Linked DNA regions of Homo sapiens: region 2 is linked to region 1. Evidence: fine-mapped expression QTL. A gene starts in region 1. The other region holds a variant in brackets. All regions are shown on one strand. Distances are between the middles of the regions. Region 1 holds the start of CLEC9A (C-type lectin domain containing 9A). Region 2 overlaps LOC105369655 (a long non-coding RNA gene).

What was found.
Region 2: its variant is fine-mapped to the expression of CLEC9A in whole blood (INTERVAL, PIP 0.96).

Annotation. Positions count from the first base shown.
Region 1 is chr12:10,029,554-10,032,472 of GRCh38, forward strand. CLEC9A (C-type lectin domain containing 9A) reads left to right here and starts at 1,129. Exons shown (of 9, transcript NM_207345.4): 1 at 1,129-1,419. It overlaps LOC102724020 (a long non-coding RNA gene), which reads right to left and starts at 1,070. Exons shown (of 4, transcript NR_169587.1): 1 at 990-1,070.
Region 2 is chr12:10,131,138-10,134,056 of GRCh38, forward strand. It overlaps LOC105369655 (a long non-coding RNA gene), which reads left to right. Exons shown (of 4, transcript XR_007063208.1): 2 at 1-103; 3 at 548-655; 4 at 2,149-2,477. Among named protein-coding and RNA genes, the nearest start is that of CLEC7A, 2.4 kb to the left of the region's middle. RefSeq lists an enhancer at 2,601-2,919. The variant G/A (reference allele first, on the strand shown) is at 1,316.

The DNA.
Region 1 (2,919 bases):
TTAAAAAATTCAGAGCCCTGCTTATGTACATGGGTGTACATTTTTGCAGACAAAAATCCCCTGTGCCCTACCTACTCAGCAATCTTCCCCCTTCCTATCAATCTTCCTCTTCCCCTGAATCATTGGTCACAACTGATCTCTTTGTTTTCTTTGTCTTGGTTTTTCTCGAATGTCATATAGCTAGGATAATATGATAGCTTTTCAAACCGGCTTCTTTCACGTAGTAATATGCATTTAAGATTCCTCCATGTTTTTCATAGTTTGACAACATTTCATTTTGTTGTCGAATGATACTCCATTGCATGAATGTACCACAGTTTGTTTATCCACTCATCTTTTGAAAGACATCATAATTACTTCTAATGTCTGGCAATTATGAATAAAGCTCCTGTGAAAATGTGTGTGCCAGTTTTTGTGTGTGTTGGGAGCAAGCCCCCCAAAATCCGGCCATAAACTGGCCCCAAAACTGGCCATAAACAAAATCTCTGCAGCACTGTGACATGTTCATGATGGCCCTAACACCCATGCTGGAAGGTGGTGGGTTTACGGGAATGAGGGCAAGGAGCAGCTGGCCCGCCCAGGGTGGAAAACCACTTAAAGACATTCTTAAGCCACAAACAATAGCATGAGCAATTTATGCCTTAAGGGCATGTTCCCGCTGCAGTTAACTAGCCCAACCTATTTCTTTAATTCGGCCCATCCCTTTGTTTCCCATAAGGGATACTTTCAGTTAACCTAATATCTACAGAAACCATGCTAATGACTGGCTTGCTGCTAATAAATACGTGGGTAAATCTCTGTTCGGGGCTCTCGGCTGTGAAGGCTGTGAGACCCCTCATTTCCCACTTCACACCTCTATATTTCTGTGTGTGTCTTTAATTCCTCTAGCGCCTCTGGGTTAGGGTCTCCCAGACCGAGCTGGTCTCAGCAGTGTGTACAGGTTTTCCACTTTCTATGGTTCCTAGATTGTCTGTTAATACTATACTTACCTCTATAAGAAACTGTCAAGTTTACCGGGCCGCGAGGGTGCAGGCTGCGCAGATGGTGTGGTCCTGCGCCCCGAGGGCCGCAGCAGCTCATCCGGCAGCTCCCACCCCAACAACCTGGAAGGGGGCGGGACTTCCGTTTGTACCCGGCTGTGGCAATCTGTGGTGAAGTTGAAATGCTTTTCTGCTAGACTGGCAACATGTTTTGATTCTTCTCAAATAACTCGCAAGCTCTTGTGAAGCACAACGGCCTACCTTGTCCTGAAGAAAACATACTCTAAGGCCCACAGATGATTAAACCCAGCCATTTATGTGACAATAGCATTTTTATTTTTCTTATCAAGATCTGGGTATTTGATCCACACAATGGTAAAGATTCCCATGTTAGCCAAGATCTAAATGATTCAAACTGATGATACTCTCTGCAGAAGAGGTAAGAACCACTGGCAGTAGGGTGGAAGGTATGTCATTACAGATGATGCTGACAGAGAAGGTCATCTGAACCTACTTTATAAGAAAGGCATGATTAAAGGAGAAAGGGGAAAGGGCATTCTAGGTTAGGAAAGATTCTGAAGAAATGTAAAATAATATGAAGGTGTGAGCTGATATATTTAAGAAATAATGAATGATATGTGGGAGTATGTATCATCTGCAGAGATGGATGAGGGAAGATGCAAGTGGAGGGGAAGGCTGGAGCCGCTGGTGGAAAGACGTTAAGTGTATTTCAATGGCCTGATACTGCAGGCAGTAGACAGCCTCTGTAAATCAGGTAGCTTCCTTACTCTTGCTCCTACTGATCCCTCAGTCTAAAATGCCCTCTGCACTTTCTCTTTAGAGATAGAGAGGGAAAGGGAGTCAAACACGAAATCTCCAGGAGGCCATCCCTGGTTATTTCTTACTCCTCTGTTGATTTCCTTTAATCTGTGAAGTGTCTTCTAACTCGTGGCCTGAGGCTTTAGTGACTCTGCTGACTCATTGTCTGGTGCTACTGATTGTGCTAATGGTCTTCGATATTGTGTCCAGTGCCCCCCACCATTTTGGGAAGAAATTGGCTTTAGTTTTTACTCAGATTGAAATTTTATTTAGAAACGGGAGTAGCAAGACCAGGTGCAGTTAGTTACACCTGTAATCCCAGCATTTTGGAAGGCCAAGGTGGGAGGATTGCTTGAAGCCAGGAGGTTGAGAAATGGGAGTAGCAACCAATGTCGGTAGAAGAAACAGCATATAATAACAGGATGTGATAAATCTCAAGAAAAGTTACGCACAAATTACTATGGCAGCAGGAACGAGTGAGCCGCCCGATGCTGTCAGTGAAGGCTCTGAGGATTGGGAAGGATTGGCAGGGTTACAGGAGACAAACAAATGCTACAAATAACATTCCAAGTAGAAGGGGAAGTGAGGGTAGGGAAAGGAATGCAGACAAGGCTGAGCCTTGTTTGGAGAGCTAAGTTCAGTGTTGCAGATGCTCAATGTCATACCTTAGGAGGGAATTGCAAATTAAAACAACAATGAGAAACCACTGTATACTATTTGAATGACTAAAATCCAAAATACTCACAACATCCAATGCTGGCAAGGATGTGGAGCAACAGGAGCATTCATTCACCGCTGGTGAGAGGTAAAAAGGCATAGCCACTTTGGAAGGCAGTGTGGCAGTTTCTTACAGAGCTAAGTATAATATTAACATACAATCTAGCAACCATAGACGCAGGACAAGAACTCGGGCAAAGACGCCACAGCCACACAGGTTTCTGAACAGAAAATCAACATCCCAAAGATCCCGTAACATAATCTATGCTCAATCTCCATCTGTATATTAAAATCCATCCACCTACCTCCTTAGGGATTTCTTTTTTTTTTTTTTTTTTTGAGACGGAGTCTCGCTTTGTCACCCAGGCTGGACTGCAGTGGCGCAATCTCGGCTCACTGCAAT
Region 2 (2,919 bases), 100 kb after region 1:
CTGAAGAGGTGTTCAACTCATTTATCCGACCTTGAAGCCAGTAGAGTGCAGGAGACATCTGAGTGTTGTCAAGGATCAACAAATCTGGATACTAGTTAATGTGGTGAGGACAGGTTTTATTCAGTAATACTATTGCAACAGGAACCAGTGCAGCATTAACTGAACTCAACTTCCCCAAAAGTAAAGCTGATGACATTTTAAAGTGGAGTTTGCTAAGGAAAAGATACTGAGTGGTGTTAAGGAAAGTTAATGTGACTAGACTCTCTGGATTTGTTAATTGGCCCTTATCCAGAGGACAGAGAAACTTTGCCTATCTATATGACAGAAGGACATGGTGATAGTTGAAGTGAAGCACCCAGCTAAGTTGGTCCTTATGCTGCATCTGAAAGAAAGAGCAAGATTTATCTCCCTGAATGTTTGCATTTCAAAGAAACAGCTCCCAAGTCCTTGAAGAAACAGTTCTGTGTGGTAGATTTGCTTCTCAAAGGGCAGAGAAAGAATTTAACTGTAAGATTTATTTTTCTTTTCTTTCTTTTTTTTTTTTTAGACGAAATTTCGCTCTTGTTGCCCAGGCTGGTGTGCAAATGGCACGATCTCGGCTCACCACAACCTCCGCCTCCCGGGTTCAAGCGATTCTCCTGCCTCAGCCTCCTGAGTAAGCTGGGATTACAGGCATGTGCCACCACGCCAGGCTAATTTTGTATTTTTAGTAGAGACAGCATTTCTCCATGTTGGTCAGGCTGGTCTTGAACCCCTGACCTCTGGTGATCCGCCTGCCTCGGCCTCCCAAAGTGCTGGGATTACAGGCGTGAGCCACTGCACCTGGCCTAACTGTAAGATTTCTAAAGTAACTGCTCTAAAAGGAATTCAGGAGCCTATCTGTTACCAAGTTTTTTGTTGTTGTTGTTGTTTTGAGACAGAGTCTCGCTCTGTTGCCCACGCTGGAGTGCAGTGGCGCGATTTCGGCTCACTGCAAGCTCTGCCTCCTGGGTTCACGCCATTCTCCTGCCTCAGCCTCCCAAGTAGCTGGGACTACAGGCGCCCGCCACCATGCCTGGCTAATTTTTTGTATTTTTAGTAGAGACAGGGTTTCATCGTGTTAACCAGAATGGTCTCGATCTCCTGACCTCGTGATCCGCCCGCCTCGGCCTCCCAAGGTGCTGGGATTACACGCATGAGCCACCACACCTGGCCTGTTAACAAGTTTTAACTGGAACAAAAAGTAAATTCTCCTAGCAGCATTGGGCTTCCTCAGGCTGGCCTTTTAAGTAGTGCTGAATCATCCTATGGACCTTGCCTTAGGCTACTAGAAGGC[G/A]TGCTAGAGTTTGCCAAGTCTCTAGTGCAGAGATTTGGGAGGAGTTGTTATATGATGAGGGCTCTGCAGTTCTGACAGTCTAACACCTATCAAAATGGAAGAGAGCTCAAGAGAGTACATAAATGAGCTTCCCGCCTTACTTAAGCTGCCACAAAAGTTTTACTAAGTTTTTGTAGACATGTTGCAAAGTGGTAATGTGGATCTTAATCTCAACATTCATCAGTGTTTCAGTCCTATAATGCAGTGCTTGGAAAGCAGCGTATGAGGTTCAGGACATGCAACCCCAAAATATGGATTCTTGGCATTTGAGAAAACAGCAGAATCAGGAAATTCACTCTCACACCTTTCCCCGTCTTTCTGCCCTGAAGCAGATCATAAGACCCTTATTTTAGAAGTATTGTTTCCTAGAGGAAAGAAACTTCCTTATCTTTGAAGATACAGAGATGCCAAGAAGAATCTGAACAAATTAGTCTTGCTAAGCTCCCTCCAGTTTATTAGCATTAGATCATACCCTCCTTGTCCAACGTAGGGGAGAAAAAGTAGTATCTTTTCCTTGCCCATCACCAGGTTCGTGACTGAGACCCCTATAACAAAAGACAGATTAACAAAACAAAAGCATGTAAATGTTATACGACAAGAGAGCCTTCTGAAATGAAGACGCAGGGAAAACTGAGTATTTCTACGGACAGTTATGCAGAAGTATGACTGGAGAACAAAAGGGTATAATCTAATGGTAATAAGCTGAGTAGAACTTAACAAGGCCTGTTTGTTCAGGTAACTTCTATTAAATAAATTTGGATGCTATTCTCTTGTTGATCTATGTTTTATTGTAGATGCCGTGAACCTAGCAATGAGTGAGGAAAAGGAATCTTTCACCCCTACAAAGGGATACCATGGAATTTCTCAAACAGTGAATACATTGGCTCCAGGAAAAAGGGTCGACCTCTTAAATAGAAATAGAGAACTAGAGAACAATAATGAGGGGAGTACCTTGCAGTCAGTAATAAGAAGCTGTCTTTACTATCAAATCAGACCTCCAGTGGGAGAGTTTTTCCCTATAGTGACTTTGACTGTCACCCTGTGTTTAATCACAATCCTATGAAAACAGTTAACTCTCTAAGTGGTCAAAGAAATTTTTCAATAAACATAAACTTTAGTCTAATTCTCATTATTCTCCTTTTTTGTCTCTTTGTCTAAAATAAAGCAATTAAACATTAATTATGCAAATCATTGACAAACTAGAAAAACAATACCCTTCGTATTTCAAGACAGTGGGAGAGATAGGCTGGGTATTCAGAGAAAAATACCCCTCATTAAATGTTAATGCAAGAAACAGGTGGAAGGCCGAGCATGGTGGCTCAGGCCTGTAATTCCTACACTTTGGGAGGCTGAGGCAGGTGGATCACCTGAGGTCAGCAGTTTGAGATCAGTCTGGCAAACATGATGGAACCCCATCTCTACTAAAAATATAAAAAATTAGCTGGGTGGGGTGGCAGGTGCCTTTAATCCCAGCTATTTAGGAGGCTGAGACAGGAGAATCACTTGAACCCAGGAGGTGGAAGTTGTAGTGAGCCAAGATCGTGCCACTGCACCCCAACCTGGGC